2 separate regions of the Homo sapiens genome follow, and region 2 is linked to region 1. Evidence: fine-mapped expression QTL. A gene starts in region 1. The other region holds a variant in brackets. All regions are shown on one strand. Distances are from middle to middle.

What was found. PIP is the estimated chance that this variant, and not a neighbour inherited with it, causes the effect. A credible set is the group of variants that fine-mapping cannot tell apart.
Region 2: its variant is the best candidate, but not a certain one, in a credible set for the expression of LINC02041 in nasal epithelium (TOPMed, PIP 0.52).

Annotation. Positions count from the first base shown.
Region 1 is chr3:187,444,375-187,449,757 of GRCh38, reverse strand. LINC02041 (long intergenic non-protein coding RNA 2041) reads right to left here and starts at 2,712. Exons shown (of 4, transcript NR_146716.2): 1 at 2,637-2,712; 2 at 2,001-2,150; 3 at 868-908; 4 at 1-507.
Region 2 is chr3:187,379,848-187,385,230 of GRCh38, reverse strand. No RefSeq gene overlaps it. Among named protein-coding and RNA genes, the nearest start is that of RTP4, 14 kb to the right of the region's middle. The variant G/C (reference allele first, on the strand shown) is at 2,918.

The DNA of each region.
Region 1 (5,383 bases):
TTAGATCCAATTTGCATTTCCATGGATAATAATTATTTGTATTCCTATCAGTTTTCTATAACTTCATTTCTATCGTATGGGGTTGTAAAATAACCTAGTCAAAGATACGGAGAGAGCTGGGCACAGTGATGTCCTCCTGTAGCCCCAGCTACTCAGGAGGCTAAAGCAGGAAAACTGCTTGAGCCCAGGAGTTCAAGACCAGCCCAGGCAAAAGAGCAAGACTGCCATCTTAAAAGACAAAACACAAGTCAAAGAGAGGCAGAGATAACCTAGGTAGCTGAATGAATCAGGACAGCCGTCAAGTGTCAACATTTTTCACAAATATCCCTTACAGACCCTTTATTGTAAAAATCCAAGATCTAGCCAAAACAGCTTTCTGAATTCTGGCTTCATTACTTGGCTGGGCTCCAGGATATTTACTCAACTATCCTGGTTTTCCAACTAATTTGCTGTGTGGGATAACTTTAGGCAAGTCCTCTTCTCCCAGCCAGGTCTCAGATTCCTTGTCTGAAAAATGAATGCATCAGATCAGTTGATCATTGGCCTTACATGACAAAGCAATGAGAGAGTAGACTGAAAATGCTTTATACAATTGAGTTAGTTAATCTCTCCATGAGGAAATATTTATGTTAGTATTATTTGACCAACTTGAACAGAGAAAGAAACATCATATGGCTCCCCAGTTGTTTTACCTCTTAAATACATTTGTTTAGAAAGACAAACAAAATAAGAATTGTCAGGGAGAGACCATGGAGAGTACTTCTGCATGCTAACGCATAATGTTAATTAATTTTATGTGTCACCTTAGAGGGTGTTGTTGGATGAGACTAACACTTAAATTGATCAATTTTGAGTAAAGCAGATTACCTTTCAGAATGCTGGTGGGCCTCATCCAATCAGTAGATGGCCTGAATGGAAGAAAAACATCAGCCTCACAAGCTAGATAGAATTCTCCAGCAGACTGCCCTCCCAGTGAAAGTCTGGGAACCCTGATTTGTGGGAGGGAGAAAGGCCTGGTTAGTGGCCCCAGTGGCCACAAAGGGCATTCCATGCAGCCTATCAAGGGACCTCAGCTCTAGTTCAGAACCACCACTTCCTACCTGGGCAGGAGTCACATCAACAGACATTCTTGGCTTTCCTGACAAGTGAGCTATGAGGAAGTGTCAGAGAACTTGAGCACTGAATGGAAAGGATGGAGAAAGGATCATGCCCAATCATAAAGCTCCTGAAAGAAGAAACGACCTCCTAAGATAAGGCTTAGTGCCCACTCTTGCTGAGACTCAGAATAAAGATACAGTAGTATCATAGAAAATTCTGTAATATCACTTACTGAGTCCTGCTGATGTGCCAGGAGCTGTGCTAGGTACACTTTACATAAACTGACACACATGATCATCTCTGTGTGATCTGTGTGCTGTGTTTCAACTGTGCTGAAAGCTAGAAGCATCATTCTCATTCAACAGATGAGGAAACTAAGCTCAGTGTAAGAAAATAATTTCCCCTAAATCACCAAGCTCTAGGAAAAGATGTCCCAAGGAAAGAGTATGCCTGAAGACCAAGGGCCATCAAGGCAGAGACTAAGGACACCAGTGAACACCCACAACATGAGCTCGGGCAAAGAGGGAGGGTGGCAAGAGATTAGGAGATGTTCAGGCAGGCAGGCTTGGATGGGGGCCAGCATGTCTACCTGTCCCTCCAAAAAACTCGCTGCCGTTCATTATAAATCAGTGGTCACCAGCAACATGTCACCTCCTCCTAATTAAACCTTATCGTCAGCCAAGGAAGAAGTTATGGTTGGTTAGATAAAGCACTTGTGGGCCCAGCCAGCTAAGAGCAGAGCAGTTTACCAGTTACTGATGGGCTTTAATTTGATAACAATTACATCACTTTTCAGAGAGACTAGGGAGCCACTGATGCAACCTCACATTTCTTGAGGGAGCTCATTGGAGATGCTAAGTGAGGCATGTGATAGGAAATGGATTACAAGAAAGAAGAGTTACCTGAAATATTGACTGTCTTGAAAAACAGTGCAGGTCTGAGTATGAGGTGAGTGAGTTAGAAACTTCCAGCTCTGCCACCTTGAAGCCGTCCATTCTTGAGCAAGCAGCTTACTTTTCTGAGCTTCTGAAAACGGAGATGTTACCATAGGCCTGTGGTGACCACCAAATGAATGTGCAAATGTGAATGGGTTTTTATATATTAAAGTACAGGTCAGCAAACTTTTCCTGCAAAGGTCCAGATGTAAGCAATGTAGGCTTTGTGGGTTAAACAGTCCCTACTGCAACTACTCAACACTGCTGTTGTAGTGTCAAAGCAGCCATAAACAATATACGACACATGGTGCAGGACAGTTCTCCAGGTGGCCTTGAACCAACCCAGCTCTCTCCCCTTCTCACTGTTGTTCCCTGGAATAACTGTAAAATATGCTGAGAATGCAACATCCTGAGACAAGGAGAGACTGGCTGGAACAGGCTGGCTCAGTTCCAGTTTCCACCTGGAAACGGGATGTTCTTCAACACATTTGCCTAGTGTGTCCTTTCATACCCTGGGGAGGGTGTAACACCCAGGGTTGTCTGCTTTTCAGGGTCCCTCAGTAGCAATGCAAGTGGGGCACATGCAGATGAGACCTCATTTACCTGGCAGTTTTTCTGAGTTTGGGGGGAGAAGCTCACAATCAATCCTACACTTCTGTTATCCCTTGCTGTTTATCTGTAAATAATAAATTTGTTTCATGTAATTTGTTATGTTTAAGGATCTTCTGCCTTACCAGACTCAGACAAGTTGGTAACCAGTGCACAGTGAACCTGCTTCACAAATGAGTGTGGCTACGTTCCAATAAAACTTTATTTGTAGATGCCAAAATTTAAATTTTAGGTAATTTTTACACTTCATGAAACATTTTTCTTCTTTTGATCTTTTTTTGACTATTTAAAATACAAAAACATTCTTAGCTTTAGACCATACAAAAAGAAAGTGGGCCAGATTTGGCCACTGGGCCAATTTCTGCCCCAAAGTGGTATGTAAATGTGGAAAACACAATAGAGAAGGGAGTTGTGCAAAGAGATAAATAAGACTACATCTTTCTTATTGAAAAAGCCACTAGTTGCTAAGCATTGTGGTGCTAACATGAAGGAATGAGAAGTCTGGGAAAAGACAGGCCAGTGTAGTCTGCAGCTACTGAGGAAGGGATTCCCAGAAGGTGGGGAATTTGGTTTGAACTGGAAGGTGGAGTGAGATTTCAGTAGGTGAGGCCAAGGTAGAAGGATGGGGATTTAAGAAGGGAAGGGAGAGTGAGGGCACAGAGGAGATAATAGAAGACCTAATGAAAGACAGCCAGACAGAGGAATGAGGTAATCACAGGTGGTGCTGGGACTCCAGCTTGAGGCTCCTGGCTGCCATGCAAGTGTTCATTCCATGTTCCAGCTGCCTGATAAATTGTGTGGACGCATCAGAAAACTTAGAAGTGCCCTGCTCTAGGAGAACTTATCGTCATATTGGGAGATAGAAAGATATTCTGGAGAAAGATATTTTAAAATACCCTAATAATTGACATGAGAGAAACAGTAATGAAATAGTAGTGCTCTTACTGAGCACCTCCTTAATTGAATATTCAGTATTCTGCAGGTATTATCTCACTTGGGACTCAAAATAACCTCTTGAAGAAGGTCTGAGTATTCTCATTATTCCCATTTTATAAATGAGAAAATTGAGAAAAGAGGGGAGAATTTTCCATGAGGCTCAGTGACCAGACTTAACAATGATAAACATTCGCATGTTGTTTCCCAAAGACTCTCAGAGGGGATTGAGAGATCAAGTAATGATCTAAGTACTGTGGTCAGCTGGCCTCCAAGGTAGATGGAAGCCTGTCAGAGGTGGAGCAGCTGGAGTGGTCAGAAGGAGTGGCACAGTGGTGGTCCACATAAGTGACTCAACACCAGCCTGATTGTTTACAGTGGTTGCAGACTTCTTTCATCCATTGGCAAGCCTGGAGTGGCTCATGAGAATGAATACAGATGCCTTGCTGGGAATGGATATTCCAGAAGGAGTCCTAGTAGCAGCAGTATGGGGGTTAGAAATAATTAAATAACATTTTCAGCTCTCCTGAGAGCCATTGGCCTAGAACAAAGAGGCAACTGAGAAGAGGAAGCTGGGAGTTATTTGTGTGTTGTTAATGGGACTTTCATCAACAGACCCCCACCCTTTCACCAGCAGCAGCCGGTCCCTGCAATCTGCAGAGACTGTATTCTCACAAAGCACCCATTCAAGTAACATGAATGCTGGCACAATGCAGCAATCAGACAGGCCCTGGCTTCTCCATGGCGCTACACCTGCACCTGTTATCATGGCAGGAGCTTATTTATCAGCCCTTAGAAACTTACATAATGGAGAAGTTTATCTATCATCAGTTCTCTTTCAGGCCATGGGGATAGAGATATTTATAAGCCAATACTAAAGGCAAACCAGTCTCTTTCTAGAGAACCAGTAAGCCCATGTGAATCTGGGCAGCTACAGGTCTACCATCGATGTTAACATGACGGAGTTCCTTGGACTGTGAACCACCTCTAGCTCTGGGTGTGGGGATAAGGGTGGTATTAGTGGCTGTAGCTGGAATCAGGGGGATGGGAGCTGCAATAGCATCCACCCCACCACTGTTGGTGAGAATGCATGAGCTGGCTTGTCAGGTGCGGAAGGAGACTGAATGCTTTTTTGATTGCTATAATTGCAGCAAATTGGATGCTTGAGAGTGCCTCTTCAATGAGAAGAATCTCATGAATGAGACTTAGGGAAGAGGGCCCTCTTTGGATCCCTCTCCTTTGTCCCATATGTATGAAATAATTCCCCAGCCATTATGGACCGTGAATAAACTGCTAATTTTAGTTGTTCAAGCCGAACAAAGACCCTGGTTGGAAGATCCGGAAGGTGATTCATCCTATATGATGTTTGCATGGTGGAAGCTAAAGGTCTTGATAGGAGTCCCTGATTATTCCAAACTTTCCATACAAAGAGTTAGACAATTTTTTTTTTTTTTTTTTGAGAAGGAGTTTTGCTCTTGTTGCCTAGGCTGGAGTGCAATGGCATGATCTTGGCTCACTGCAACCTCTGACTCCTGGGTTCAAGTGGATTCTCCTGCCTCAGCCTCCCAAGTAGTTGGGATTATAGGCGTGTGCTACCACACCTGGCTAATTTTTGTATTTTTAGTAGAGACAGGGTTTCATCATGTTGGCCAGGCTGGTCTCAGAGAGTTAGATAACTTTTTAATTGGTCATCTCAACACCAGCAACCAAATGGACTCCAGTACCTTCTCTTCTATTTAAGGTTCTCTCTTGGCAATCCTGGGTGCTTTGAGTGTGGGCATTCTCCTCTAAGTTTTCTTAATTGGGAA
Region 2 (5,383 bases), 65 kb after region 1:
CTGACAGGACTTTAAATGGCATCTATGCCAACCAAGCACATTCAGTATTTAAGTCCTCTTGCTTAGTACTCAGCCAAAGTGTCACCTAGCCTCACTTGAACACTTCCAATGAGAGTTCCAACTGAGAACCTGTAGGAAGAACTCAGAGAGGCAAAAAGGAAGTCACAGGGCGCCACAGAGCTCAGAGACAGCTGAATATGAGAACTGAGTGAGTGCATGGTGGTGGTACTGTTAGCAGTGGACGAGATCTGAGTTACCCCCAGTTACCCCAAGTTACCAGCAGTGTATCTGTCACAGTCCATAGCAACTTCAGTCCTCGCCTCCTCAAAAGAAATAATTTGACTAAGGGGCATAAAACAGGAAAAGATACCCAGGCAAGTTCCAGATCAGGAATGGAAGTTTATTAAAAAGACTTTAGAAGGGTAAAGGAAGGAAAGAACCCTTGGAAGAGATCCAAGTGGGTGCCTAAAGGTTAAAGAGAGAAAAAAAGGAAGCCGCCTTTAACCAAGGTTCTAGGATTTGATAAGCTCGCCTCTTCCCCATGATTCTTCTCTTAGGGTGTGCTTTCTGCATGCATGGTGCCCTCGTTACCCTTGGGAATTGAGCATGCACAGTGCGTTTAGAGAGTTTATGAGTTTATGAGGCTTTTTTCCCTTTTTCCAGTGGCATGTGCCCCCAGAATGTCATACTTCACCATTTCATCTCTTAACATGCGTGCCCAAGGGGCTTCTCCTTGGGGCCTGCATTCAATTAACATTTTGATGTTAACAGGCGCGGATCCTCAGGAGATGGCCTCTCCCTGGCACTGGCTGTCAATTTATCACTTTTAGAGAGGCAATGCGATAATTGCCAAACTGTCACCCGACATTTCTAGTGGGTGGGGGAAGAGCCCTCTCATGCCCCTCTCATGCCTAACTATCTGTAACAGTAGGGTGGCCAAGGGATCCTGTGGGATGCTGGAAGGAAGAAGGAAAGTATGGAGACCTTGCCTTGGGTTTGGAGAATGTGGGAAGTTTGGGCTTCCTCATGGGGTCAGTGTTTCCATAAGCAGCACTTTAGGAAGGGTAGGTGAGCTGGGCTAACAGGGAGTAGGAGATCCACCTCTTCCCTAAATTTAACTCTTGGACATCTTGGTCTTTCTGGATTGTGTTGCAAGGACAAAAATATTGGGTTGAGCATAATGAGACTTTATCATTATATATCTGCTATCGGTTATCAGTGAAACCATGAACAATTTTTAAAAAATCATCTGAAATTTACATACAGGCCAAAGAGATTATTGGGTAATCTTTCAGTGCTGAACCTAACTTTCTATTTACTGGATTATTTTACTTCACTGTAAAGGAAAGCCTCACTTATAAATTTAGTTCAGTAGACATATAAATAATCTCTGCCCAGTGGAACTAATAGCCCCAAAGTGTACAGTTTATGATCCTATTAAATGTAAACCAGTCTTTATATAGCTTATTACACACCAAGCTATTAAATTGCTTGTATAGACCTAGCTTCTCAAATGTTCTTCGGGGTGGTTCTCAATCTTATTGTTTCCCCGCTAACTAATGAGTTCAATAAAATCTTTGAAACATGTTCACTATTTGTATGAGGCATACTTTTACCTTTTTGAAGATTATACTCTAACCGGAAACTCACTTCTGACTCCAAGGATTTGGTTTTCTTATCTTTTAAAAGATGCATTAGGATTAGAGGGTCTCTAAGAGCCCACTCTGAGATGTCTGAGCCACTAAGCCACCTGGGCCCCGTCTTCTCCACCATCCCAGGGTCTCCAGGGAAAGGCCCTCTTAACTCTCTGGAGCTGAGAATTAGCGACTGCCGATACTGCTTCCTGCCATGGCCCCCCAGAAAAGGTGGTCAAGTCACATTTGGACACTGCAGGCCTTCAGCAACTCTGAGATTCTTTAGAAGTTCTCAGGAGACAGAATACATTGTTTTTCCCCACTTATTCCCATTCCCCAGCCTCTCCCTCCTCCTAACCACTCTCTACTTCCCATTACAAACCTGAAACATTCCTGGTTCTACATACCCAGCTTTTAGTTCAACCCAGAGCCTAAGGCATCACCCCTGAGTGCTCACCTCTTTGACATCCTTAAGTGGAAATCAGCCGTGCCTTTTGGCCTCAGCTGAGGCAGCGGGGGTCAAACAGCTACTCCTCTCACTCCTGCAGAAGGGGTGTAAAATCGCTTCCGGCTCTGCCGTCTGATGAATCTGTCCTTCCGAACCTCCAGAGGCTTCTCTGTCTCTGCCCTTTTGGCCTGAGGTTGTTCAGAGGGCATTATCCTCTAAACTGAAAGTGTCTGAATTCACTGAGGGCGAAAATGTGGTGTGTAGATGGGGCAGAGAACATGAAAGGAGGTTCAGGAAAGGCCAGAGATTACATTTAGCATTCCTGAAAGCCCCTTTTGGCCTTTGGCAACAATTAATGATCAACACATGGAAAAAGCCTTTTCCATTTCAAGGGATGACTGATTTTGTTATCAGCAACTTTTGCTGAGCCTTCCTAGGTCAGATGTCTGTGTGCGTGAGAATAAGCTCAGTGTGTACAGTGTTTATGAAATAAACATTTTTCTGTTTCTGATGCCAAGTTGGCTATCAGGCCTGACTGCTAATACTCATGGCTTGGTCAGGTGCTGATAAATTTCTCTTGGTACCTTTCTTCCTTCTAGTGATGACCCCATCCATTATTTTAGGAGCCAAATTAATTCCCCAGTATGGGGAGGGAGTGATGCTTCCCAGGCTGCCAACCACAGCCTGGGCCCTCACCCCTCCTGTACTATGCAGTTGGATGGGGGGCTCGGAGGAGGGGGTGCTGAAGATTAAGCCCAAATGTCTGATAAATCACATAATATTTATTGGGCTTTGAGTGGTTACACAGGGTGCCACAGAGACAAAATCCCCAAAA[G/C]TTTGGATGTGAATATCCTGAAAATATGAAATGAAGTCAGCCAATCCATGATGTATCTATGTGACACACTGAGAGGGTGTTTTTAAACACCTCCCTCCCGTACACAACAGAGACCTTAGGGACCGTCTGCTTCAGTTTAAAGAAAAGTTTCCCCAAAACGTTGTGGGCATTTGTGTCTCTGAGAAGGAAGAAAGCTGAAGCCAGCTCCAAACAGATTCCACACTTGTTTATAAGTCTTGAGCCTCTGGGACATAATTCTCTCAAAGATCACATCCCCAGCAAGAAAAAAGAGTCAAGAGAGATGGATACCCGGCTAGGGCTAGGGAAGGAGTTGTCCTCTCACTCTTGGCCACTCTTGGAATTTCTTGAAGTAATCAAATCTTGAGCCTGGGGATTTATCCACGGGTTGGAGCGATACTTATATATGTATTATTAAAACTTAACAGTGATCACAGCAATTATTTATAATTTAGATCAACAAAATGTTATTTGGGGGAAGTAATTCATCACTGACATTGTTCAGAATTGGTGGGATATAATGGTAATTTAAAAATTGTTCAGAATTGGTGGGATATAATTGTAATTTAAAAATAAACAACTTTTATGCGTTTTATTATGAATTTAAAATTCTATACAGTGAATGTCCCCTTCATTGCCTAGACCACAGCCCTCCCACTGCCCTTGCCTGGGTATCTACCTCCAGCTAATGAACTTGGGTCTTTAATAAATAATGTTAGTCTAGGGCTGCCTTAACCTTTGCAAAGTAAAAACATCTGTACCGTCTGCATTTCTATAATTGTGATTATATTTATTTATTTATTTATTTATTTATTTATTGAGACAGGGTTTCGCCCAGTCTGGAGTGCAATGGCACAATCTCAGCTTATTACAACCTCTGCCTCTGGGCTCAAATCATTCTACTGCCTCAGCCTCCTGACTAGCTGGGATTATAGGCACATGCCACCACGCTCAGCTAATTTTTGTATGTTTAGTAGAGACAGGGTTTCACTCTGTTGCCCAGATTGATCTCAAACTCCTGAACTCAAGCCATCTGCCCTCTTCAGCCTCCCAAAGTACTGGAATTACTGGTGTTTCTCACTGTGCCTGGCCGTGATTATATTTAAATTGTGGTTGGAAGAGGAGTCAGAGTAAAGAAGAAAAGAGGAGACTAGGTAATATAAAAAGAAAAAGGAGTTTGAGACCAGCCTGACCAACATGGTGAAACCCCATCTCTACTAAAAATACAAAAAAATTAGCCAGGTATGGTGGCTCATGCCAGTAGTCCCAGCTACTTGGGAGGCTGAGGCAGGAGAAAAGCTTGAACCAGCGAGGCGGAGGTTGCAGTAAGCCAAGATTGTGCCACTGCACTCCAGCCTGGACGACAGAGTGAGACTCCGTCTCAAAAAAATAAAAAGAAAAGAAAAAGGGGAGAGAGGCATATCAGAATAAAGAAAATAAACAGGGAGAATGTAGCCAGGAGTGGGGGCTGCACCTGTACTCCCAGATGTTCCAGGAGCTGAGGTGGGAAGATTGCTTGAGCCCAGGAGTTTGAGGCCAGCCTGGACAACATCACAAGACCCTATCTTTGTTTTTTGTTGTTTTGTTTTTTTATTAAGAACAACAACAACAGAAAGGGAGAATGTGACAGGAAGAGATCTTGGAAATCTATTAAGCCATTAGTTTCTTAAAGTGATGTTTTATTTTAATTTTTATCAAAGTCATATGTGGGCATAGCTTAAGAAAAGTAGAGTCATTCTATAATGCTTATGGCAAAAATCAGCCCTTTCTGGCCCCTCCCAGCTTCCATTTCCTCTCCCCAGAAGCAATCATCTTCCTTTCTTTTAGCTTTTTCTTCTAGTATTCAGCTCCTTGTTTCTGTTTCTTGATTTTTCACTTTTTGATATTAATCACTGATTTCCTCCACCAAGATAAGCATTTAATTGTCTTTCACCCTCAGGCTCTAATCAGGCACGCTTCTCTTACCTTCAAATTCTTTTAAATCACATTTTTTGTTAAACCAATATTCAGTCATAATACTTAATGACTATTTGAATATTATTTATAGCTAAGCAGTGTAGAGTACTCTAATTGCATTTATTTTCTAGTACAAGCTCTTGTTTTATCCCTGACGTTAATAGTTGCCTTGGTTTTCATTTTTTTTTTTCTCTGCTTACTTTTCCATGTTTCCATTTAACTCACTCTCAAACTCTGTTAGAAATGTAAACTCCTCTTTAAACATTCAAATGCACCAGGTAACCTCTTGTTTCCTTTTGCTTTTTCCCTTGGGGACATCCCCCCCCGCCCCGCCCATAGCCTTCCATCACATGGCCCCAATCTAGATGGGTTTCTCTCTACGCTGGCTGCACAGTGAGTGTTCTGGGAGCTTTTTAGTGTCTCACACTTGGTCTTGGACAGAGAGCCAAGGATACTTTGATATCGGAAGAAATCCTCTACCATGAAAGGCAG